5 separate regions of the Homo sapiens genome follow, and regions 2, 3, 4 and 5 are each linked to region 1. Evidence: fine-mapped expression QTL. A gene starts in region 1. Each other region holds a variant in brackets. All regions are shown on one strand. Distances are between the middles of the regions. Region 1 holds the start of PIGB (phosphatidylinositol glycan anchor biosynthesis class B). Region 2 overlaps RAB27A (RAB27A, member RAS oncogene family). Region 3 overlaps CCPG1 (cell cycle progression 1). Region 4 overlaps DNAAF4 (dynein axonemal assembly factor 4). Region 5 holds the start of DNAAF4-CCPG1 (DNAAF4-CCPG1 readthrough (NMD candidate)).

The links. PIP is the estimated chance that this variant, and not a neighbour inherited with it, causes the effect.
Region 2: its variant is fine-mapped to the expression of PIGB in CD4 T cells (CEDAR, PIP 0.95).
Region 3: its variant is fine-mapped to the expression of PIGB in whole blood (TOPMed, PIP 0.95).
Region 4: its variant is fine-mapped to the expression of PIGB in whole blood (INTERVAL, PIP 0.96).
Region 5: its variant is fine-mapped to the expression of PIGB in whole blood (TOPMed, PIP above 0.99).

The regions. Positions count from the first base shown.
Region 1 is chr15:55,316,739-55,321,870 of GRCh38, forward strand. It overlaps PIGB (phosphatidylinositol glycan anchor biosynthesis class B), which reads left to right and starts at 2,484. Exons shown (of 12, transcript NM_004855.5): 1 at 2,484-2,675; 2 at 3,537-3,672; 3 at 4,535-4,652. The coding sequence starts at 2,513. It overlaps PIGBOS1 (PIGB opposite strand 1), which reads right to left and starts at 2,385. Exons shown (of 2, transcript NM_001308421.2): 1 at 2,126-2,385; 2 at 446-1,129. The coding sequence starts at 1,054. The coding sequence ends at 890. It also overlaps a transcript of RAB27A not described here. RefSeq lists enhancers at 2,244-2,313, 2,364-2,453, 2,514-2,593, 2,664-2,743.
Region 2 is chr15:55,260,471-55,265,602 of GRCh38, forward strand. The region is part of intron 2 of RAB27A (RAB27A, member RAS oncogene family); the gene reads right to left. Among named protein-coding and RNA genes, the nearest start is that of RAB27A, 27 kb to the right of the region's middle. The variant G/GA (reference allele first, on the strand shown) is at 2,075.
Region 3 is chr15:55,379,138-55,384,137 of GRCh38, forward strand. All of the region lies in intron 3 of CCPG1 (cell cycle progression 1), which reads right to left. The region is part of intron 10 of DNAAF4-CCPG1 (DNAAF4-CCPG1 readthrough (NMD candidate)); the gene reads right to left. Among named protein-coding and RNA genes, the nearest start is that of MIR628, 8.6 kb to the left of the region's middle. RefSeq lists a silencer at 3,449-3,628. The variant A/T (reference allele first, on the strand shown) is at 2,155.
Region 4 is chr15:55,479,658-55,484,789 of GRCh38, forward strand. The region is part of intron 4 of DNAAF4 (dynein axonemal assembly factor 4); the gene reads right to left. The region is part of intron 3 of DNAAF4-CCPG1 (DNAAF4-CCPG1 readthrough (NMD candidate)); the gene reads right to left. Among named protein-coding and RNA genes, the nearest start is that of DNAAF4-CCPG1, 16 kb to the right of the region's middle. The variant AATC/A (reference allele first, on the strand shown) is at 2,587.
Region 5 is chr15:55,496,358-55,501,489 of GRCh38, forward strand. DNAAF4 (dynein axonemal assembly factor 4) reads right to left here. Exons shown (of 10, transcript NM_130810.4): 2 at 1,850-2,227; 3 at 1,355-1,502. The coding sequence starts at 1,972. It overlaps DNAAF4-CCPG1 (DNAAF4-CCPG1 readthrough (NMD candidate)), which reads right to left and starts at 2,227. Exons shown (of 16, transcript NR_037923.1): 1 at 1,850-2,227; 2 at 1,355-1,502. The variant A/G (reference allele first, on the strand shown) is at 2,280.

The DNA.
Region 1 (5,132 bases):
TGCTTAGTGGATTAAAAAACATCTGTGTCATATCTGCCATCCTCTCAAACAACATCTACCTTCTCTAAAACCTCAATTTGATCTGAGCCATCCCAACTCTCAACTACTCCTCCACACTGCCTGAGATGAAAAACGGCTGGGATTGAATGACTGCCAAAATATATTAAACCAATCTAACTGCAGGGTAACGGAGTGGATTTCTGCCTGAGGTAGTTTAAGTTGGTTCACATATCTACAAACACTATTGCAAACACCCTTCCCAATTATTATATACACACTGAGACTGGCACCCCATGATACTGCATATGCTGAATTCCTAGAAAAATAAACCTCAAGTAGAAAATATTCCTAAAATATTCACTTTTGTTTAAAAGGAAATTACTTATCTGTCCTGGTAAAAAGACATAAAATGACAAATATACAATAAACATTAAAATTAACAGTGTTAGGTTAAAAAATCATTATCCATGATTTATTTTTAAGTACATCTATGTTTTTGCTAGATTAGAGTTAACATAATTAAATGGAACTTTAAGCAATTATTACAGTTCATCTCCATGAGGTATTTGTGGGTTTTTTTGCTTTTTGTTTTTTTAGATGGAGTCTCGCTCTGTCACCCAGGCTGGAGTGCAGCAGCGTGATCTTGACTCACTGCCACCTCTGCCTCCCAGGTTCAAGTGATGCTCCTGCCTCAGCCTCCCAAGTAGCTGGGATTACAGGCGCATGCCACCAAGCCTGGCTGATTTTTGTATTTTCAGTAGAGACAGGGTTTCACCATGTTGGTCAGGCTGGTCTTGAACTCCTGACCACCTGATCCACCCGCCTCGGCCTCCCAAAGTGCTGGGATTACAGGCGTGAGCCACTGCGCCAGGCCTAACTCCATGTAGTATTAACTTTTCTTCTCTTCTGATTCTTGTACCAACTGCATCTTTTCTTTTAATTCCTTCTGATCTTTGGCATACTGTTCAAATACTGGTTGAAAAATATATACTCCTCCAGCAATTCCAAGGACAGTGGCAAAAAGCAGTTGTGCAAAAGTCAATCTCCTAAACATTGCTGCAACAAATACAGCTCAAGGAAAAGCTGGTTTTGGAAAGTCACACTCCACACCCAGGAAATCTCTTCAAATCTGCATACAAAAATGGAAAGCAAAGCCATCACTTAGTACAATGTCCTTTTAAAAGATGTTATGTCACTACTTTGCACTGGAGTGAACAATATTTTTATAATATGTTACTAATTAAAACAAGAATATAAATACATAAGGAGTACAGGAAGTGAATTAGGGAAGGGTATAAGACAAAACTAAAACCTTTTCTATTACAGAATGTTCTCAATGGTTTTAAATGCATACTTTTTCTTTTTTTTTTTTTTTTTGAGACGGAGTCTCGCTCTGTCGCCCAGGCTGGAGTGCAATGGCGCAATCTCGGCTCACTGCAAGCTCCGCCTCCTCGGTTAACGCCATTCTCCTACCTCAGCCTCCCGAGAAGCTGGGACTACAGGCGCGTGTCACCACACCCGGCTAATTTTTTGTATTTTTTGTAGAGACGGGGTTTCACCGTGTTAGCCAGGATGGTCTCGATCCTCTGACCTCCTGATCCGCCCGTCTTGGCCTCCCAAAGTACTGGGAATACAGGCGTGAGCCACCGCGCCCGGCCTGGTTTTACTTTTAACAAGAGGAGTGGGCCGCACGCGGTGGCTCACGCCTGTAATCCCAACACTTTGGGAGGCCGAGGCGGGCGGATCACGAGGTCAGGAGTTCCAGACCAGCCAGGCCAATATGGTGAAACCCCGTCTCTACAAAAAAACACAAAAATTGGCCAGGCGTGGTGGCGCGCCTGTAGTCCCAGCTACTTGGGAGCTGAGGCAGGAAAATCACTGGAACCCGGGAGGCAGAAGTTGCAGTGAGCCCAGATTGCGCCACTGCACTCCAGCCTGGACTACAAGAGCGAAACTCCGTCTCAAAAAAAAAAACAAAAACAAAAACAAAAAAAAAACCTAACAACAGCAACAACAACAAAAAAAATAGGAACCATTCGGCCTGTTTCCACATCTGTACAACAAGCTAAATCATCCCTACCCTGCCTACCTCGTTGAACAGGCATTTTTTGTGAGAGCAACGAACCTGAAATGTTAACACCAACACTGACGTCTACAATTACCGTTACCGTTTTTAATAACCACTCAGGTACCTCCGACTGTTCTGCGCCTGCTCCACGTCACTAAACTCGCTACCGCCTGCTCCCCTCCAGAGACCGGGGGCCTTCCAGCAGTTTTCGGACCCCCGAGCACAGAGACCGCCAAGCCAAAGGCGAGTAGCAATCCCTCGGTTCGGAAACGGCGAAAGGAAACCGCAAGGAGGCCACCACGTCGGGTGGGAGCTACGAAGTTGCCCGTTCCCGGTTACTTCCGGGCTTGCGAGCGACGACTGCTCTCAAAGGCCAAACTTAATGGATGGACGAGCAGCGCGCTACTGCAGCTTTCTTCCGCCTTAGGAAGGTGGCGGCCAGGGATGAGGAGGCCCCTAAGCAAGTGCGGAATGGAGCCGGGGGGCGGAGATGCCAGCCTCACTTTGCATGGTCTCCAGAACCGCTCCCACGGCAAGATAAAGCTGCGAAAGAGAAAGTCTACCTTGTACTTCAACACCCAGGAGAAGAGCGCCAGGCGCCGCGGGGGTGAGTGAGGGGACACTGTCTGGAGAGCTCCTACCCCCATCTAAAAGGAACCCCCTCCATTTCATTACCAGCCAGTTGCCCGTTGAGCTCTGTGTTGCCAGATCTTGAGTTTTGAAATGCTGGGAAATGCTGGAAACACAGATTTTAATATAAATTCTGATTTTTAAATGTTGGCAACTAAATTCAATTTTTTAAAAAATACTCTGTATTTGGCCGACAGGCTGTCCATTTGTGGTCAAGAGCAGGACTTTGGAGACATCACACAGACCCGGGTTTGAATCCTGATAAGTAATTTACAACTTTATTTGGACAAGGCAGTTTAATTTCTGGGCCTCAATTTGCTCGTCTGTAAAATGGGGCTAATAATACCTATCCCATAATATTGTTTGGAGGATTAAGTGAGATGCATGTGAAGAAATTAACACAGTGCCTGGCATATATAATAGTAATCATCAATATATATGTACAGAGGACCATTTTATATTGCACATATACAAAGGGCTGCTTCCCAAATTAGTAATTTGTTAGCTGGTTTCTTTCATTAGATACACACATAGTATGACCTAATTAATTAGCCTAAGGCCTTAGTTAACCCACTCTTTTTTTTTTGTATTTATTTTAATATTATCTTTACACAATAAGTTGCAAGAAAAGTTGGTTAAACTAAAAGAGTGGCAGTCACCCAGTGATGACGCTGTGGTGCTTGTATAACCAACCAAGTTGGCTTTAAGAATGGTGTGGAGGGACCAGAGGTCACTACTGTGCCTTACAAGGAGCCAACCAGAGCAGCAGATTTTAAGTTTTGCAAGTGGAACTGCCTGACTTTTGTGCCACTATTACCTGTTTTGTTCTGTTTTTCAGATCTTCTTGGAGAAAATATTTATCTGCTCTTGTTTACCATAGCTTTACGAATATTAAACTGCTTTTTAGTGCAGACAAGTTTTGTTCCAGATGAATACTGGCAGTCTCTTGAAGTTTCACATCACATGGTTTTCAAATATCCTTTGTGGTTTCTTTTCCAGACTATGAGTGTGTATTCATCTTGGAAATTGTGCTCAGTTTCTTTTAGAGTAGTCCCCCTTGCTCCCTCGTCTTCAGTAGATAGTTTCCAAAATCCCTAGTGGATGCTTGAAACTGTAGACAGTACCAAACTCTATATATATTGTTTTTATATATGTAAAAAATACACACACGCTTATGATAAAGTTTATACAAATTAGGTACAGTAAGAGATTAACAGTATTAAAATATAACAAGTATAACACAATACTATAATAAAAGTTATGTGAACTTTTATGTGGTCTCTCTCAAAATATCTTCATATTTTCAGACAGTGGTTGACTCTGGGCAACTGAAACATGGAAAGAGAAACCACAGATAAGGGGGGACTACTATACATATTTTCAGTTTTCCGTATTTTCCCCAAATAATTTTAACTCATCAAAGTATACCATTATTTTATACAAATATTTCTCCTGTATCTTTCTTTTATGTTAATATACTTGACACAGCCGTTAGCATACATTCCCACAGTACTTAGCACTTGGAGGATACAGAGAAAGTAAAAAACACATTACTGCCTTGAAGAAGTTAAGAGTTTAGTTGGCCAATTGAATTTTTAATGCAAATATCCAGTATAAAATGCTGTTTTAAGACTGCCACAAAATAAAATATTGTTTTATAAATGGAAATGAAAATAGATTTTGCCAGGTGAAGTGGTGTGCACCTGTAGAGGCAGGACCACTTGAGCCCAAGTTTGAGACCAGCCTGGGCAAGAGAGTGAGACCCCATCTTAAAAAAAAAAAAAACACGGAAATAGGTTTCAATATTATTGGACATTTACTCCTTAATGTTACTAATTATGGTTATTTGACTTGGGAATGGACAGAGAGACTGAGGAGTTACACTTATCCCTTAATCTTTGCAAGCATTTACAAGATTCTTCATCTTTTAGGGAAAGATAGTGTTCAGTTGCTGGTAAGTTTAAATAAAAGTAACTAAATGATATTGGGGCCATGGAATTTGTTTTTAAAAGGCTACTGTTGCTGAAGTCCAGCCATATCTGGGAAGCCCATGATACTACAGACATACTGTGATGTGTAACTCTTTAGTTTGTGCTGAAATACAAGACTGAGCATGAAAATATCCTGCTATGAGGAATCCTGTTATGATGTGCAGATTTTCAAAATGACTATATTATGTATTATTTGGACATTAGAAGTATACTTCTTTCTTTTTTTTTTTTTTTTTTTTTTTTGGGACGGAGTTTGCTCTTGTTGCCTAGGCTGGAGTGCAATGGCGTGATCTTGGCTCACCACAACCTCCACCTCCCGGGTTCAAGCGATTCTCCTGCCTCAGCCTCCCGAGTAGCTGGGATAACAGGCATGCACCACCATGCCCGGCTAATTTTGTATTTTTAGTAGAGATGGGGTTTCTCTGTGTTGGTCAGGCTGGTCT
Region 2 (5,132 bases), 56 kb before region 1:
AAAAACCTGCACACTGATATTTATTATAGCAGCTTTATTCATAATTGCCAGAACTCAGAAGCAACAAGATGTTCGTCAGTAGATGAATGGATAAATAAACTGTGGTACATTCAGACAATGGAAAATTATTCAGCACTAAAAAGAAATGAGCTATCAAGCCATGAAAAAACATGGAAGAACCTTAAATGCATATTACTAACTGAAAGAAGCCAATCTGTATGATTCCAACTATGTGGCATTCTAGGAAAGGCTAAACTGTGGAGATAGTACAAAGATCAGTGGTTATTAGGGGTTGGAGTGGGGGAAGTGAAAGAGATGAATAGGCAGAGAACAGACGATTTTTAGGGCAGTGAAACTATTTTGTGTGACACTATAACATAGATAGATGTCATTATACATTTGTATACATACCCATAGAATGTACAACACCAAGAGTGAACTCCAATCTAAACTATGGACTTTGGATGATAATGTGTCAATAGAGGTTCATCATGTGTAACAAACGTACCACTCTGGTATGGGATGTTGATAGTGGGGGAGGCTATGCATGTTGGGGGGTTTGGGAGGGAAGGGAATATATGGAAACTGTACTTTCTACTCAGTATTACTGTGAACCTAAAACTGCTCTAAAAACTAAAACTCGGCCAGGCATGGTGGCTCATGGTGGCCTGTAATCCCAGCACTTTGGGAGGCCGAGGCGGGTGGATCACGAGGTCAGGAGTTCAAAACCAGCCTGGCCAAGATGGTGAAACCCCCATCTCTACTAAAATATAAAAATTAGCCAGGCGCGGTGGCAGGCACCTGTAATCCCAGCTACTCAGGAGGCTGAGGTGGGAGAATTGCTGGAACCCGGGCAGCAGAGGTTTCAGTGAGCCATGATCGTGCCACTGCACTCCAGCCTGGGTGACAGAGTTAGACTCTGTCTCAAAAAAAAATAAAAATAATAAATAAATAAACTCTAAGAAAAGAATATTTTTGGCTGGGTACTGTGGCTTACACCTGTAATCCCAGCACTTTGGGAAGCCAAGGCAGCCAGATTATGAGATCAGGAGTTCAAGACCAGCCTGGCCAACACGGTGAAACCCCATCTCTCCTAAAAATACCAAAAAAAAAAAAAAAAGTTAGCTAGGCTTGGGGGCGTGTGCCCGTAGTCCCAGCTACTTGGGAGGCTAAGGTAGAAGAATAGCTTGAACCCAGGAGGCGGAGGTTGCAGTGAGCCGAGATCACTCACTGCATCTCAAAAAAAAAAAAAAAAAAAAAAAAAAGCATCTTTTTGAAAAGTTTTCGGGCCAGGCACAGTGGCTCATGCCTGTAATCCCAGCACTTTGGAAGGCCGAGGTGGGTGGATCATGAGGTCAGGAGTTCAAAACCAGCCTGGCCAACATGGTGCAATCCCATCTCTACTAAAGATACAAAATTAGCTGGGCATGGTGGCATGCACCTGTAATCCCAGCTACTCGGGAGGCTGAGGCAGAAGAATTGCTTGAACTCAGGAGACAGAGGTTGCAGTGAGCCAAAATGGCACAATTGCACTCTGGCCTGGGTGACAGGGCGAGACTCCATCCCAAAAAAAAAAAAAAAAGTTTTCAATAAACTCTTTTCATGAAGATATTGTACATCTTTCAACTTATTGATACTTTGTTTTTGTCACTACTGTGATAACTTTTAAACATGTATCTTCTATTTCTTACATAGCCATACTAATTCCAGCAATCTGTTAAACATATTAGGTAAAAATAAATTACTTCTTCCTTTCTAATCTTACCTTTTAGTCTAATTATAAAAAGTCGGCCAGGCGCGGTGGCTCATGCATGTAATCCTAGCAATTTGGGAGGCCAAGGTGGGCGAATCACAATGTCAGGAGATCCAGACCATCCTGGCTAACACAGTGAAACCTCGTCTCTACTCAAAATACAAAAAAATTAGCCGGGCGTGGTGGTAGGCACCTGTAGTCTCAGGTACTCGGGAGGCTGAGGCAGGAGAATGGCGTGAACCCGGGAGGCAGAGCTTGCAGTGAGCCGAGATCACGCCACTGCACTCCAGCCTGGGCAACAGAGTGAGACTCTGACTCAAA[G/GA]AAAAAAAAAAAATAGGTAAGAACAAAACAAAACAAAAAAACAGTGAATAGACATGGTGATACAGGTAGTCTTATCTCTTTTTTTTCTTTTTTTTTGTTTTTTTTTGAGACAAGATCTCACTCTGTTGTCCAGGCTGGAGTGCAATGGCACAATCACAGCTCACTGCAGCCTCGGCCTCCCAGGCTCAGGTGACTGTCCCGCCCCAGCCTCCCTTGTCCAGGCTGGTCTGGAACTCCTGGGCTCAAGCCACCCACCTGCCTCAGCCTTCTAAAGTGCTGGGATTATAGGTGTGAGCCACCACGCCCAGCCCAGTCTCGTCATGTCTTGATTCTAACATTTCACTGTTAAGAATGACATTTGCTGTAGATTTTTGGTACATATTTTTATCAGGTCAAGGAAGTTCATCTATCCTAGTTTGCTAAGTACGAGTATTATGAATGGGTGTCAACTTTATCACATTTTGTTTCAGCATGTATCAAGGAGACTGCTACTTTTTTCCCTTAATCTGTTAATTTACCAGCTTTTATATTTATTCCGCCTTTGATATTTTTCTTTCCTTTCTTCTAGCTTCTTCTCTCACTTTCCTGGTTTCTGCTCTTTTCTCATACTTTCTACCTAGAATTTCTCTTTCAAAGTAATTCTGTTTCTTCCTTTTGCATTCGCCAGGGGGTAGGGGAGAGCAAAGGGAGGTAGTTCTCAGGGTAATTAATAAATATTTGAATGGCTAAAAAGTGAAATACCTAATAGGTGCCAGGTCCTTGAGGTGACCTTACCCAAAACCAGTCTTCAAATGTGCCATATTACATTTATATAAGTCGCTCCCGTCTTGGGCTTAAAAAAAAAAGTTACTTGAGATGCAGTCACTAGAGGAAGAATTATAGTAGAATGCTTTAAACAGAAATGGTGTTTCACCCTCTAGAGAAACATCGAAAATGCATTAGCTATCATCCGAATTTTCTTTTGAACACAGTACTATATTTAATTTTAACTACTAGCACTTGGGTTCCCCCATTTAATACCTAGAAAGTAGGGCACTAGATTATAAAAATGCCAAGTATCTGAAGAGAGACAAGGAATAACGTTTATGCATTCTGTAATTCAACACTGTATGTTAAAGAGGCCAGCCCATGTCTCTTCTTAATTTTAAAATTAAAGAAGCCGAACCCAAATTTCTGAATTCTAGCTAATAATTTAGGACCCACTTAAAAAAACTTTGCCAAGTTTTTCCATTAGTCTGTTTAATTGTCCTAAAGTCTGTATTTCATTTAACTCCATGAAATGCATATATTTGAGGAACGATGTTAGAGTAACCATGATCTAGAAATGAAAAGGGCACTTACACAAAAGAAACAAATCAGCAAACAACTCTGTAACAGAATTCTGGAGTCTTTAGTCTTACAAAAAACCACATTAAACATCGTAAGAGAATACAACATTTAGTCCACACCTGACTCCAAAGAGTCTCTCAACTATAGCCAGGGTTATTTTTTCTGTTTGTTTGTTTGTTTTTGTTTTTTGAGACAAGAGTCTCACTCTGTCACCCAGGCTGGAGTTGGAGTGCAGTGGTCCGATCTTGGCTCATTGCAACCTCTGCCTCTGGATTCAGGTGATTCTCATGCCTCAGCCTCCCAAGTAGTTGGGAGTACAGGCATGCACCACCACATCCGGTTAATTTTTCTATTTTTAGTATAGACAGGGTTTCGCCATGTTGCCCAGGCTGGTCTCAAACTCTTGACCTTAGGTGATCAGCCGGCCTCGGCCTCCCAAAGTACTGGGATTACTTTGGGTGTGAGCCACTGTGCCCAGCCAAAATCTTTATTTTGTGATTTCTACAAACCTTTAATCACGTTTAGATTTTAAACATTTTTCCAACCTCTATAAGCTAGAATAGATGGGGATCTGTTTTTTAACAGAAATTTTAAGCTGTTTTAGAGAAAAATAAACTTGGCTCAAATGACAAATGTGAAATTATCAAAATTACGAAGCATAGGAGGATGTGGGAAAGGGTTGTAGTGTTCACAACACATAGGAAAGTATTTCCCAAAAAATATATATTAAATGTACTTCAAATATAACAGAAGTTAAATGCAGAATAGCATACATATACCTCTCCAAAATCTGTTAATAATTTTAAATGAGGTTTGATAAGTAAATTGGCCTCCACCAATGATCCAAAGATATACTAGTAAAGCTTGATGCCACTGAGGAGGGAGAGAGCCTGGTTTAAATGACTGAAATTCATTCAGTCATTTAAGCAGTAGCTCATGAGCACATCAATTAAACATCTAACAAACAAGAATTGTGGATGTGCCACTATGTTAAGCACCAAGAATGTGGCTCTAGAAGAGCAACAGTCTAATAGGTAAGCTGTTTGTGGAAATGCCCAAGGAAAATGCATGGAAACAAGAACTATAGGGCCCGGCATGGTGGCTCATGCCTGTAATCCTAGCACTTTGGGAGGCCGAGGTGGGCGGATCACCTGGGGTTGAGAGTTCAAGACCAGCCTGACCAACATGGTGAAACCCCATCTCTACTAAAAATACAAAATTAGCCGGGCGTGGCGGCGCATGCCTGTAATCCCAGCTACTTGGGAGGCTGAGGCAGGAGAAACATTTGAACCCAGGAGGCGGAGGTTGCAGCCAGCCGAGATCGCACATTGCACTCCAGCCTGGGCGACAAGAGTAAAACTCTGTCTCAAAGAAAAAAAGAAGAAGAAGAAGAACTGTAACAGAAGTATGCACAAGCCGTTGGGGAGATGGGAGGGCTGGGGAGATAGCACAAGAGGGAGAAGAAGGAGCCCACAATGTCTAAGGAGGGAATCAGAAAAACTTCACACAGGGGCATCTGAGCTAAGGACTAAAGTCAGAATGTGAGTGTACAGGCACACATAAGGACAAGTGACAGATGTGAATGGACAAAAATTACACAGTGCACTAGATAATGTGGGGAACGACTTTACCTCACATGTCAGCCAAATAAGCATTATCCTTTCAAGATAACAGAAACTATAAGCAAATAATTCTTGATGCCAATCCAAAACATGTAACTGAGTTTTGA
Region 3 (5,000 bases), 62 kb after region 1:
ATGAAAGTATGTATGTATATGTACGTGTGTGTGTGTGTGTGTGTGTGTGTGTGTGTCTAAATGCCTTATAAGAAAACATAAACTATAAAAAACAAGGACTCAGGCGGGGTGCAGTGACTCATACCTGTCACCCTAGCACTTTTGGGAGGCCAAGGCTGGAGGACTGCTTGACGCTACAAGTTCAAGACCAGCCTGGGCAACACAGCAAGACCCTGTCTCTACAAAAATAAAAATTAAAAAATTATTTGGGCATGGTGGTATGTGCCTATAGTACTAGCTACTCAGAAAGCTGAGGCAGGAGGATTACTTGAGCCTAGGAGTTGAGGCTGCAGTGAGCCATGATCATGCCACTGCACTCCAGCCTGGACAAGAGAGTGTGACTATGTCTCAAAAAAAAGTCAGAGAGAGGGCAGTCCAGGCACAGTGGCTCATGCTTGTAATCCCAGGACTTTGGTAGGCCAATGTGTGAGAATCACTTAAAGCCAGGAGTTCAAAACCAGCCTAGGCAACATAGCGAGACCAGTTCTACCAATAATTTTTTTTAAAAAAGAAAGAACTCAAAACACAGAAAAACTAAATGTCACTACAGAAGATATATTTTATAAGAACCTCCTCAAAGAAAATGTGTACAAACAGAATGATGACTTCACAATATATTTTTAATGAAAAAGAGCATAAAGGCCGGGCACAGTGGCTCAAACCTGTAATCCCAGCAGTTTGGGAGGCCAATGCAGGTGAATCACCTGAGGTCAGGAGTTTGAGACCAGCCTGGCTAACACGGTGAAACCCCGTTTCTACTAAAAATACAAAAAATTAGCCAGGTGTGGTGGTGCGCGCCTGTAATCCCAGCTACTCCAGAGGCTGAGGCAGGAGAATTGCTTGAACCCAGGAGGCGAAGGTTGCAGTGAGCCGAGATCATGCCATTGCACTACAGCTTGGGCAACAAGAGTGAAACTCTGTCTTAAAAAAAAAAAAAAAGAAAAGAGCATAAAATATTAAGAAAAGTTAAAAATAATATAACATATAAATTTATGAGCAAAGTACACCAAATATCAACAGTAATTATTTCTAGATAAAAGAATTATAGACCATTTTAAATTTCTTTTGCTTACTATTTTTTTTTCCCTATCATGAACATGCATTTCTTTTTGTTTTTTTTTTGTTTTGTTTTGTTTTGAGACGGAGTCCCCCTCTGTCGCCCAGGCTGGAGTGCAGTGGCGCCGTCTCGGCTCACTGCAAGCTCCGCCTCCCGGGTTCACGCCATCCTCCTGCCTCAGGCTCCCAAGTAGCTGGGACTACAGGCGCCCACCACCACGCCCGGCTAATTTTTTGTATTTTTAGTACAGACGGGGTTTCACCGTGTTAGCCAGGATGGTCTTGATCTCCTGACCCCGTAAGCCGCCCGCCTCGGCCACCCAAAGTGCTGGGATTATAGGCATGAGCTACCGCGCCCGGTCGATCATGCATTTCTTATGTAATTTAAGTCCTGCAAAGAACAGGGAAAAAAAAATATTTTTCAGCATTATATACCCTCTAACAGAAAATTAATTAATTTAGAGGTGAGATTCCGCCACAGTACTCGGCCGGGGTGCTGGGGCCAGGCGCGGTGACTCATGCCTGTAATCCCAGCACTTTGAGCGGCTGAGGCAGGCAGACCACGAGGTCAGGAGTTCAAGACCAGCCTGACCAACATAGTGAAATCCCGTCGCTATTAAAATGGCCGGGCGCGGCGGCTCACGCCTGTAATCTCAGCACTTTGGGAGGCCAAGGCGGACAGACCACGAGGTCAGGAGATCAAGACCATCCTGGCTAACACAGTGAAACCCCGTCTCTACTAAAAATACAAAAAATTAGCCGAGCGTGGTGGTGGGCACCTGTAGTCCCAGCTACTTGGGAGGCTGAGGCAGGAGAATGGCGTGAACCCGGGAGGCGGAGCTTGCAGCGAGCCGAGATCCCGCCACTGCACTCCAGCCTGGGCAACAGAGCAAGACACCATCTCAAAAAACAAAAAAATTAGGCCGGGCACAGTGGCTCATGCTTGTAATCACAGCACTTTGGGAGGCCGAGGCAGACTGATCAGGAGGTCAGGAGTTCGAGACCAGAGTGGCCAACATGGTGAAACCCCCGTCTCTACTAAAAATAAAAAATAAAAAA[A/T]AAATAGCTGGGCATAGTGGCAGGCACCTGTAATCCAAGCTACACAGGAGGCTGAGACTTGAACCGGGGAGGCGGAGGTTACAGTGAGCTGAGATCATTGCGCCACTGCACTCCAGCCTGGGCAACAGTGCGAGACTCTGTCTCATAAAGAAAAAGAAAAAAAAGAAAATTTTCTTTAACATATGCAAGTAAATGCATTTCTTGGAAGAAACTGTCCATAGCTTTCAGATTCTCAAAAGGATCTCTGACACAAAAAAGATGAGAATCACTTTTCAAATGAGAGTAGTAATAATCAACGTGTAGGCTTAAAAAAATTAACAGCTATAATCTCTTCTATTTCTGGCCTTGACACATCCACTTTTTTCTCCTGAGGGGAAATGTTCTGTATGCATTTTACTGTAATTTTTTTAAAAAGTTAATGAAGTAATTTAAATATGAACATAAGTGTATGCAGTAATTGTTCAGGAGTCCTATTTCTCTATATAAATAATGTGTGCATCAAATCCCATGTGAAGTATACATAATACAGATTCCATTTTACCAGATTGGAACCAGAGTACAGGCATATCTCAGATATCTGCAAGTTCAGTTCCAAACCAATGTAATAAAGCAAGTCACATGAATTTTTTGGTTTCCCTGTCCATGTAAAAGTTAGGTTTACACTATGCTGTAATCTATTAAGTGTGCAATAACATCATGTCTAAAAAACTGTACATATCTTAATTTAAAAATACATTATTGCTAAAAAGTGCTAGTGATCATCTGAGCCTTCAGTGAATTGTAATATTTTTGCTGGTGGAGAGTCTTACTTCAAAGATGATGGCTGCTGACTGACCACTGTGGTAGCTGCTGAAGGGTGGAGTAGCTGGGGCAATTTCTTGAAGTATGACAACACTGAAGTTTCCCACATGGATTGACTCTCCTTTCATGAAAGATTTCTCTGTAGCATGCAATGCTGTTTGATAGCACTTTGCCCACAGTAGAACAACTTTCAAAATTGGAGTCAATCTTCTCAAACCCTGCCACTGCTTTATTAACTAAGTTTGTGTAATATTCTAAATCCTCTGTTGTCATTTCAATAATATTCACAGCATCTTCACCAAGAGTAGATTGCATCTCAAGAAACTACTTTCTTTGCTCATCCATAAGAAGCAACTCCTTATCTGTTCAAGTTTATCATGAGATTACAACAATTGGATCACATTTTCAGGATCCACTTCTTTTTTTTTTTTTTTTGAGACAGAGTCTCGCTCTGTTGCCCAGGCTAGAGTGCAGTGGCGCGATCTTGGCTCACTGCAAGCTCCGCCTCCCAGGTTCACGCCATTCTCCTGCCTCAGCCTCCCGAGTAGCTGGGACTACAGGCGCCTGCCACCACGCCCAGCTAATTGTTTGTATTTTTAGTAGAGATGGGATTTCACCGTGTGAGCCAGGATGGTCTCGATCTCCTGACCTCATGATCCGCCCACCTCAGCCTCCCAAAGTGCTGGGATTATAGGCATGAGCCACCACACCCGACCAGGATCCACTTCTAATTCTAATTCTCTTGCTACTTCTACCACATCTGCAGTTCCTTCCTCCATTAAAGTCTTGAACCACTCAAAGTCATGAAGGTTGAAATCAACTTCTTCCAAACTCCTGTTAATGTTGATATTTTGACCTTTTCCCACAAATCACAATTGTTCTTAAAGGCATCTAGAATGGTGAATCCTTTCCTGAAGATTTTCAATTCACACACATTGCCCAGATCCATCAGAACAATCACTATCTATAGCAGCTACAGCCTTACAAAATGTATTTATTAAATAATACAACCTGAAAGTCAAAACTACTCTTTGATCCATGGACTACAGACTGGATGTTGTGTTAGCAGGAAACAAAGTAACATGAATCTCCTTGTACATCTCCATCAGAGCCCTTCGGTGATTGACCAGGTATTGCTATACAATGTCTAGTATTTTGAAAGGAATCTTTTTGTTCTGAGCAGCAGGTCTCAACACTGAGCTTAAAATATTCAGTAAACCATGTTGTAAACACATGGCTGTCACCTAGGCTTTGTTGTTCCATTTACAGAGCACAGGCAGAGTAGATGTAGCATATTTTTTAAGGGTCCTAGGATTTCTCAAGGCATGGTAAGTAAACACTGGCTTCAACTTAAAGTCACCAGCTACATTTGCCTCTAACAAGAAAGTGAGCTTGTTCTTTGAAGCCTAGAAGCAGATATTGACTTCTCTGTAGTTAGGAAAGTCCTAGATGGCATCTTCTTCCAATAGAAAGTTGTGTCATCTATACTGAAAATCTGCTGGTTGGGGTAGCCACCTTCATCCATTATCTCAGTTAGATCTCCTGGATAACTTGGTGCGCCTTCTACATCAGCACTTGCTACTTCACCTTGCACTTTTATGTTACGGACATAGCTTCTTTCCTTAAACCTCATGAACCAACCTCAGCTAGCTTCCGCCTTTCTTTCTACAGCTTCTTAACCACTCTTAGCCTTCATAGACTTGAAGCAAGTTAGGAAGGACTTGTTCTGGATTAGGCTATGGCTTAAGGGAATTTTGTGGCTGGTTCAATCTTCTACCAAGACCACTAAAATTTTCTCCATGTCAGCAATAAGGCTATATGGCTTCCTTATCATTCATGTGTTCACTAAGAAGGACTTTTAATTTCCTTCAAGAACTTTTCCTTTGCATTCACAACTTGGCTAACTATCTGGCCCAAGAGACTTAGCTTTTGACATGCCTTCCTCAAATAAGCTTAATCATTTTTAGCTTTTGATTTGAAGTGAGAGACACACAACTCTTCCTTTCACCTGAACACCTGGAGGCCACTGTAGGGTTATTAATTGG
Region 4 (5,132 bases), 160 kb after region 1:
ATCGCTAAATTCTTTTCCTAGCAAGGAATATTAATATTAATACCCTGGGAAAGGAATGTGTTCCTAGGCGGAGGTCTATAAATGGCCGCTCTGGGCTCTGGGAATGTCTGTCTTGTGCAGTTGAGATAAGGACTGAGATACGCCCTGGTCTCCTGCAGAACCCTCAGGCTTACTAGGGTGGGGGAAAAACTCCACCCTCGTAAATTTGTGGTCAGACCAGTTCTCTACTCTTGAATCCTGTGTTCTGTTGTTTAAGATGTTTATCAAGATAATATGTGCACTGCTGAACATAGACCCTTATCAGTAGTTCTGCTTTTGCCCTTTGCCTTGTGATCTTTGTTGGACCCTTGTCAGTAGTTCTGCTTTTGCCCTTTGTCCTGTTCCCTCAGAAGTATGTGATCTTTGTTACACCCTTATTAGTAGTTCTGCTTGTTGCCCTTTGAAGCATATGATCTTTGTATCTACTCCCTGTTCTTACACCCCCTTTTTGAAACCCTTAATAAAAACTTGCTGGTTTGAGGCTCAAGCAGGCATCACAGTCCTACCGATATGTGATGTCACCCCCGATGGCCCAGCTGTAAAATTCCTCTCTTTATACTGTCTCTCTTTATTTCTCAGCTGGCCAACACTTATGGAAAACAGAAAGAACCTACGTTGAAATACTGGGGGTGGGATCCCCCGATACCCAAGGCCCCCTCCAGCCTTTAACCAGGGCCACTGTAGCAGGGACCTTAACCACTTGGGAAAAGGAAAACAACAAGCTAACCTACATGTTCATCATAGAGAACAATTTTTGTCTTGAAAAACAAGCAGCCTTTTTCCTGTGTGGGACTAGTTCCTACTTACGTTTACTAGCCAAATGGACTGGAACCAATTGTTTGCACTGCACACTTGTTTACTTAGCCCCCGAGATCAATATAGCTCCCAATAACCAGTCTCTCATTATACCTTTAACTGCAACCATCAGGCACAAACAAGCCACCCAACTCATACCCTTTCAGGTAGGGTTACGAATAACTGCAGGCGTAGAAACAGGAAATAGTGGGCTTCCAACTTCTCTATCCTATTACCAACGCTTGTCCAAGGAGCTTTCAGACGGCTTGGAAGACACTGCCCAAAGTATGCCTTACAAAATCAGGTAGACTCTTTGGCAGTCACTTTACAAAACAGAAGAGGACTGATAAGGTTGGGCTCTGTATCCCCACCCAAATCTCACCTTGGATTGTAATAATCCCCACGTGTCAAGGGTGGGACCAGGTGGAGGTAAATGAATCATGGGGGCAGTTTCCCCCATGATGTTCTCATGATAATGAGTGAGTCTCACAAGATCTAATGGTTTTATAAGGTTTTATGGCATTTCTCCTGCTGGTGCTCATTCTCTCTCCTGCCACCCTGTTAAGAGGTGTCTTCTGCCATGATTGGTAGTTTCCTGAGGCCTCCTTAGCCATGTGGAACTGTGACTCAATGAAAACTCTTTCCTTTATAAATTACCCGATCTTGGGTATGTCTTCATTAGCAGTGTGAGAATGGACTAATACAGGGACTGGATCTCCTAACTGCTGAAAAAAGTGGCTTATATCTTTTCCTAGAGGGAAAGCACTGTTTTCATATCAACCAATCAGGATTAGTAAGGGATGCTGCCCCAAAATTAGCTGACCAGGCCTCTAAAATATGACAACAGTTGTCCAAGTCATGGGGCCCCTGGTCAAGGATACTAAGCTGGGTTTCATGGCTCCTTCCCCTAGCCAGCACATTATTAATACTTGTACTTACATTGATTTTTGGACCATTTTTGTTTAATCATGTAACCAGATTTATTTCTTCTCACCTAGAGAACATTAAGCTTCAAATGATCATGCAGCAGGGCTTCTAGCCAGTTCCAGGTGACGATGCCAGCCCTAGCCTTCAAGAAGTCACCCTCTCTCCACTAGACAGAGCAGGGCAAGAGTTCTGTGGTCCCCAATATGTAGGGACTCTGCCCTAATCCGCACGAAGCAATTACAGAAGACAGACCATCAGTTCCTCTGCCTCCCATAAAGATTTATTGGGATCAAGTCTCTCAGGGGGAAATGAGGCAGAACAGGGTCTGGAACAGGGAGCCTGAGGCCAACTAGCAGCTGGCTTATTGGAATTGGGCCAAAAGAAAAACCCCACCTCTCCATGCCAAGGGCCAGAGGCCCCTCCCTCTACAAAACCCCCTCTCTCCCCTATTGCTAATTAGTTATGGGCCAAGACTTCACTTCAGCCTCTGATTAGTAATGGGCCAAGCCTTCATTTGTGTAGGGTGCAACCAATGGGAAGCCTCTAAACGGTACCCAGGAATGCTACCAAATTCTTTTAGTTTAGTACAAACCTGAAAGAACATTGCAATCGGGGCTCTTGAGCTGCTTGCTTGAGCCCGCTTACACTCTGTGGAGTGTACTTTTGCTTCAGTAAACCTGCACTTTCGTTGTTTTGTTCTTTTATTGCTTTGTTTGTGCATTTTGTTCAATTCTTTGTTTAATGTGCCAAGAACTGGGACAACTCATAGTCAAGACTTTCCATCTGGCAACAACAGAAGTGTTGGCAAAGATGTAAAAAAATTAG[AATC/A]ATCATACATTGTTGGTGGGAATGAAAAATAGTATAGCCATTGTGGAAAACTATTTGATGATTCCCCAAAAAGCTAAACAGAATTACAAATGACCCAGCAATTCTATTCCTAAGTATATACATGAAAGAATTAAAAACAGACACTCAAGGCCAGGCGTGGTGGCTCATGCATGCAATCTCAGCACTTTGGGAGGCCGAGGTGGGTGGATCACCTGAGGTCAAGAGTTAGAGACCAGCCTGGCTAACATGGCAAAACCCCCTCTCTACCAAAAAATACAAAAAACGAGCTGGGCATGGTGGTGCTTGCCTGTAATCCCAGCTACTCAGGAGGCTGAGGCAGGAGAATCACTTGAACCCAGGAAGGAGAGGTTGCAGTGAGCTGAGATCATGCCATTGCACTCCAGCCTGGGCAACAGAGCAAGATTCCATCTCAAAAACAAAACAAAACAAAACAAAAAACAGATACTTAAATACTAGAAGTACATGAATGGTCATAGTAGTACTATTTGTAATAGCCAAAAGGTGAAGAGAACCTAAATTTTCACCAACTGATGAATGGATAAACAAAATGTGGTGCCATCCATACTATGCCATATTATTCATCCATAAAAAGGAATGAAAAACTTATACATGCTACAATATGTATAAGCCCTATATACATTTTGCTAAGTGAAAGAAAGCCTCCCATAAAGACTGATGGGCATCACATCCAAAGACCACACACTGTATGTGAAATGTCTAGAGTAAACAAATCTATAGAAACAGACAGTAGATTCTGTCTCCTCCAGGGGCTATGGTGGAGGGAAAAGTAGGGAGTGACTGCTAATGAAAATAGGGCTCTTTATTTATTTATTTATTTATTTATTTTGAGACAGAGTTTTGCTCTGTCGCTTAGGCTGTAGTGCAGTGGCTCAATCTCGGCTCAATGCAACCTCTGCCTCCCAGGTTCAAGCAATTCTCCTGCCTCAGCCTTCCGAGTAGCTGGGACTACAGATGCACACCACCACACCTGGCTAATTTTTGTATTTTTAATAGTGATGGGAATTCACCATATTGGCCAGGCTGGTCTCAAACTCTTGACCTTGTGATCCGCCCCCCTCAGCCTCCCAAAGTGCTGGGATTACAGGTGTGAGCCACCATGCCTGGCCAATAGGTCTCTTTTTATGGTTATGAAATGTTCCAGAATTACATAGTGGTGATGGCTGAATAACTTGTATACATACTAAGAAACAATGAATTCTACACTTTAAAAGAATGAACTTTATGGTATATAAATTATATCTCAATAAAGCTGGGGTTTGTTTTTGTTTTTGAAATGGAGTCTCACTCTGTCGCCCAGGCTGGAATACAGTGGCACAATCTTGGCCCACTGCAACCTCTGTCTTCTGGGTTCAAGTGATTCTCCTGCCTCAGCCTCCGGAGTAGCTGGGATTACAAGTGCACACCACCACACACGGCTAATTTTTTGTATTTTTAGTAGAGATGGGCCAGGCTGGTCTCGGATTCCTGACCTCAAGCAGTCCACCTGCTCAGCCTCCCAAAGTGCTGGGATTACAGGCATGAGCCATCACACCCAGCCAATAAAGCTTTTTTTTTTTTTTTTTTTTTTTTTTTTTTTTTTTTTTAAGAGAAAGCATAGGCCAAATAATGGGAGAAGAGAGGAAAAGAGCAAGCAAGAATAAATGTTATACTTACCAATATCTCAAAGATTTAGGAAAAAAGGGAATGAGTGGGTTTCAGAGATATAGTTCAAATTAAAATGGCACTGAAGAGCACATCAAAACCACAATGAGATACCACTTCACACCCATTAGGATGGCTACTCTCAAAAAACCAAAATAACAAGTGTTAGTGAGAATGGGAGAAACCGGAATCCTTGCACACTGTGATGAAAACATAAAATGGTCCAAATGCCATGGAATACAGTATGGCAATTCCTCAAAAAATTAAAAATAGGCCGGGCGCGGTGGCTCATGCCTGTAATCCCAGCACTTTGGGAGGCTGAGACAGGTGAATCACGAGGTCAGGAGATCGAGATCATCCTGGCTAACATGGTGAAACCCTGTCTCTACTAAAAATACAAAAAAAATTAGCCAGGCGTGGTGGTGAGCACCTGTAGTCCCAGCTACTGGGGAGGCTGAGGCAGGAGAATGGCTTGAACCTGGGAGGCGGAGCTTGCAGTGAGCCGAGATCGCACCACTGCACTCCAGCCTGGGCAACAGAGTGAGACTCCGTCTCAGGAAAAAAAAAAAAAAAAACAGAATTACCATTACCATATGATCTGCTATATCCACTTCTAGATACAAGCCCAAAACAATTGAAAGCAAGATTTCAAAGGGATATTTTTATACTCGTGTATATTAGTCAGGGTTCTTTAGAGAGACATAACTAATAGTATAGATAGATATATATAAAGGGGAGTTTATTAAGTATTAACTCACACAATCACAAGGTATCACAATAGGCCTGCTGCAAGCTGTGAAGCAAGGAGAACCAGTCCAAGTTCCAAAACTGAAGAACTTGAAGTCCCATGTTCGAGGGCA
Region 5 (5,132 bases), 180 kb after region 1:
ATTTTAAAATTCCATAGCTGATTCAAATATGTAGCCAGGGTTGGGAACATCTGCTCTAGAGTGAAACTGCTAAGGCTCCAGTTCCAGGCTGCCAGTCACTAGCTGTGTGATTTTGCCAATTACTCAAACTTTCCATATGTCAGTAGCCTCCCCTGTAAAAAAAGGGTAATAATACCTAAGTGACAGGTTGTTTCATGGAATTACAGGCATGTTAACACCTAACGCAAAGTTAAGTACTCAATAAAGGCTATATATCAGGAGGGCTTACCCTTAAGACATGAGCCCACATCTTCTGCTTAATGTGCTCTAACTTTGACTAATTCAGCCTTTAGGTTTATTTAAATGGCTGCTGAAGCACTGTATCACTTAAATTAGGCTCATAAGCCTTTTTTTTTTTCTAAAACAGCAATTGAATGAGTTCAGGATATGCCACCCCAAAATATGCTGCTTTCATATAGCGATCATTTTGAGTTAAAGGCACTTGAAAGCAGCAAATGCAGGGAGAGGTTTTGCCAGAACTCCTCTTATCTGCCTAAAAACAGATTTTCCAAAGGAACCCAAGTGTCATAAATCTCTTCCCCTGGAGTTTCATTAACCAGGGAATATTGACTATTCTCCCAGAAAAGGAAACTACAAGTCAACACCACACTCTGACAAATTTTGTTAAAAGCTATCACATTTCCTATCTATTCTTCTAAGGATCCATTCATCTTTCCTAAAAATCATTTCCTGTTCTAAGCGGCCTACATCCCCTCCCCCTTCCCCTATTAAGACAGTCCCTAAACTCTCAAATCTCACCGCTTGGGGGGTATTCACTTTTTTCCCTGTGATGCCCTCAAGCACTAATATTAAAAATTCATAAATTTCTATACATTTTCTTCTGTCAATCCTTCTGTTGTTAGTTTATTTTATAGACCCAGCTATTGAACCTTGGAGAGTAAAAGGAAAGTCTATCTGGCCGGGTGTGGTGGCTCGCACCCGTAATCCCAGCACTTTGGGAGGTCAAGGCGGGTGGATCACTTAATGACCGGTCAGGAGTGTGAGACCAGCCTGGCCAACATGGCAAAACGCTCTACCAAAAATACAAAAAAATTTAGCCGGGCGTGGTGGCGGACACCTATAATCCCAGCTACTTGAGAGGCTGAGGTAGGAGAATCCCTTGAACCCCGGGGGCAGAGGTTGCAGTAAGCCGAGATCATGTCACTGCACTCCAGCCTGGGCGACAGAGCAAGACTCTTAAAAAAAAAAAATCTATCTTCCCCTACACAATATAGGTGCTTCAAAATAAAATTTTTTAAAAGGTCTGAAACCGAAAAGGTACAACCAGATGAACATCTTTTAATAAAGAACTTACCACCCGTCACAGAAAGGGTCTCCCACATGGCCGCTTCTTTTTTATACAAGGTGAAGACAATGGTGTCATTCCCAATCTTTGCTTTGCTGCTCTCATCGTCTATGGGAGCATAAAGAAATGCCTCAAATAAAAATGGAGGAAAGTTGACCTATGCAGAAGGGTGAAAACAGAAACTAAGTTAGTTACACAAATTAAGCACGCGTATTAAGAAACACGTGAAAAAGGTAAAATAACTTTCTAAAAGGCCCACTAAATTTATGCCAGGTAGTGAAAGATTAGCAAGGCATATGAGGAAGCCCTGGATAAAAGTAGTCTCTGATCTGATTATCTGTCTACAGATGGTGTGTTACCTGTATGGGATTCATTTTTTTAATAGGATTAAAAATTTAGGACGTTTATCGGCAAAGATGAGCCTGTTGCTCGTGCCCAGCTGCGCTCTTGCAGAAGCTTCGGACCACACCCCCGGAGACCGGCAGGCAAGACTTGCATTCTTACCTTCAGATAGTTTTCCGTGCAGAACACGTCCGTGTCTCTGACGCACACGCCTTTGAGGGGCAGAGACAGAAAGACCGCAGTCTTCGTCTGCTGCCAGCTGTAATCGCTAACCTGAAGAGGCATTCCGGTAGCAACGGGAGCGGATAGCGCGGCTGGTTGCTTCTTGCGCCTGCTTGGTTGCTAGGGAAGCTGGGGTTACCATGCGCCAGCCCTTCCGGGTCAGGCCGGCCGGGAGCCCGGCGTTCCCAGCGTGCTCCGGCGCCAGCACCTCGCGGACTCCATGCGTGACTATCCAGGCGCCCAGACCAGAGAGTGATGCCGATTCTTGGGGTTACCTTACGATCTGAGCGAATGTTCAAAGAAGTAGACCCATACCCTCTGCTTGAGAAAAAAAAAAAAAAAAAAAAGCACTCTGTGGGTCGGGCGCGCT[A/G]GCTCACGCCTGTAATCCCAGAACTTTGGGAGGCCGAGGCGGGCGGATCACCTGAGGTTGGGAGTTCGAGACCAGCCTGACCAACATGGAGAAACCCCGCCTCTACTAAAAATACAAAATTAGCCGGGCGTGGTGGTGCATGCCTGTAATCTCAGCTACTCTGGAGGCTGAGGCTGAGGCAGCAGAATCGCTTGAACCCGGGAGGCAGGGGTCGCAGTGAGCCGAAATCGCGCCATTGCACTCCAGCCTGGGAAACAAGAGCGAAACTCCGTCTCAAAAAAAAAAAAAGAAAAGAAAAAGAAAGAAAGAAAAAAAAAAGCACTTCCAGCCTCATAATGCGATAATGCTAAGGAGGGCTGTGGGCATAAGGCTCGGGAAAGCAGCCCATGAGGAGCAGGTGCAATGCCCATACGCCCTTGGTGCAGTGTCTTGTCTGTTTATTCTGACTGAGGCTATTAAGAGTTAGCGCTAGTTGTTCTGTTTTGCAAATTTCTTGGTCATACAGACTGTGAACAAATGTGAACCTGAAAGAGCCAATCCGTCAACATCCAGAGCGGCTAACTGGGTCTAAATTTAAAATAGAGACACGTGGTCATTTACCTACTAGAGGTCACACATGGACTCTGCGTTCTCCCCAAACCCACACCTCTGTTGAGTGTTGGGTCTTATAGGGCTCACCTGCCTCAACCAATCAGGGCTCAGCTGTATCAACCAATCAGAACTAAGTGCGGTTCAATCGTTCATTTGTATAAACGAACCTGACTGGGAACCTGGGCAGAAACTTTTGCTGTAAAACCCAAACCCTCCCTTTGTTCTCTGGAATGCACCTTTGTTTTACACCTAAGGCTTCAACTCCCCAGTTTGCAAACTGTTCCCTGAAATAGTTGCTTTGCTCCAAATTCCTCTTCAGAAAACGTTTGTTCACAACACATACCAGGAGCTTGTCTAAAACTATTGTATCCTGCAAATCCTATTAACTGTAAGGCCGCCAAAAGCACCTATATAGGTTTTGCTCCAAAGTTTGAAAACTGAAGAGAAACCACCCTATGATTCATCTGACAAATGCTTTGCTACAAATCTGGAATAGGGTAAATTGGAATTACACTGACACATTCCGTAAGTGCTTAAGTAGAATCTGAACTTAAGTGCTGCAGAGAAGCTTGAAGATTATGTAGTCTTATTCTACATATTTAAGGAATCTGAAACCTATACACAAACCATTTTCGTATAGATTAGTAGCAGACCATCATTAAAATCCTGATCTCTTAACTCCCATTACAATGTTTTTGCTCCAGGCTGCTTTCTGCACACCCAGTTTATAAATTGCTGGGATAAAACAGTGAATGTATACAATATTTAGATACACACAAATTACTTCCCACTTGGGGCTTTTGATTTTCAACTTTTTTTTAACTTTAAAAAAAAAACAGAGAAACTGGGCCTTTGTGGAAATCTGAAAGTATAATACAAAACCCTGGATTTTAAACTTATTTACTTTTGGAAGCCTTTCTTTCACACAAATTTCAATGCTCCTTAGAAATTCATTGAGGAAAGATAAGGAGCAACAGACTTGAAGAGAAAACCATCTTTTCCCCAAAATAGGGCACACTCACTACCTTAGCAGTTCATCATCTCAAGCTTCTGGTAACTTTGAATACTGGGAGTCATCCTAGACTTGCTTTCCCTTGTCCCTTTAAGCTGAGAAACCCACGAATCCCATGGACTTTTTTAAAAAAATTTCTTTTGTCATTTTCCCCCTTTTGTTCTATTCCTACTTTTACCATATTGTTTCCAAATCTTACATTATCTTCTAAAGACAGGGTTTATGCATTTCTTTCATATAAAATGTTAAAGTCCAGGTTCTCCCACTATACAGAAATATGTGAGATTTTATATGCATGAAAGATAATAATGTAAAGGATACTTTGTGCTGTCGGGGATTTCAGGAAAATCTGTTAGCAATCACTTTGCTAAACACATACACACCTCTGCAGTGAAATTATTCTCCTGACTACCATGATCCTACTAAACTTTTAGACTCTGAATGAATTATACCTTAAAAACTTGTCAAGTTGGCCGGGCGTGGTGGCTCATGCCTGTAATCCCACCACTTTGGAAGGCCGAGGTGGGCGGATCACCTGAGGTTGGGAGTTCAAGACCAGCCTGACGAACATAGAGAAAGCTCGTTTCTACTAAAAATACAAAATTAGCCAGGCATGGTGGCACATGTCTGTAATCCCAGCTACTCGGGAGGCTGAGGCAGGAGAATTGCTTGAACCCAGGAGGCAGAGGTTGCCATGAGCTGAGAGCGTGCCATTGCACTCCAGCCTGAGCAACAAGAGTGAAACTGAGTCTCAAAAAAAAAAAAAAAAAAAAATGGAAACTTAAAAAAAAAAATACCTGTATGATATTGGAGTAAGAAAGGATTTTTTTGTTGTTGTTTTTTCAGACGGAGTCTCACTCTCTCACCAGGCTGGAGTGCAGTGGCGCGATCTCGGCTCACTGCAACCTCCACCTCCGGGGTTCAAGCGATTCTCCTGCCTCAGCCTCCTGAGTAGCTGGCACTATGGGCATGCACCACGAAGCCCAGCTAATTTTTGTATTTTTAGTAGGGACGGGGTTTCACCGTATTGGCCAAGATGGTCTCGATCTCCTGACCTCATGATCCGCCCACCTCGGCCTCCCAAAGTGCTGGGATTACAGGCGTGAGCCACTGTGCCTGGCAGGATTTCTTTCTTTCTTTTTTTTTTTTTTTTTGAGGCGGAGTCTCGCTCTTTCGCCCAGGCTGGAGTGCAGTGGCGCTATCTCGGCTCACTGCAAGCTCCGCCTCCTGGGTTCACGCCATTCTCCTGC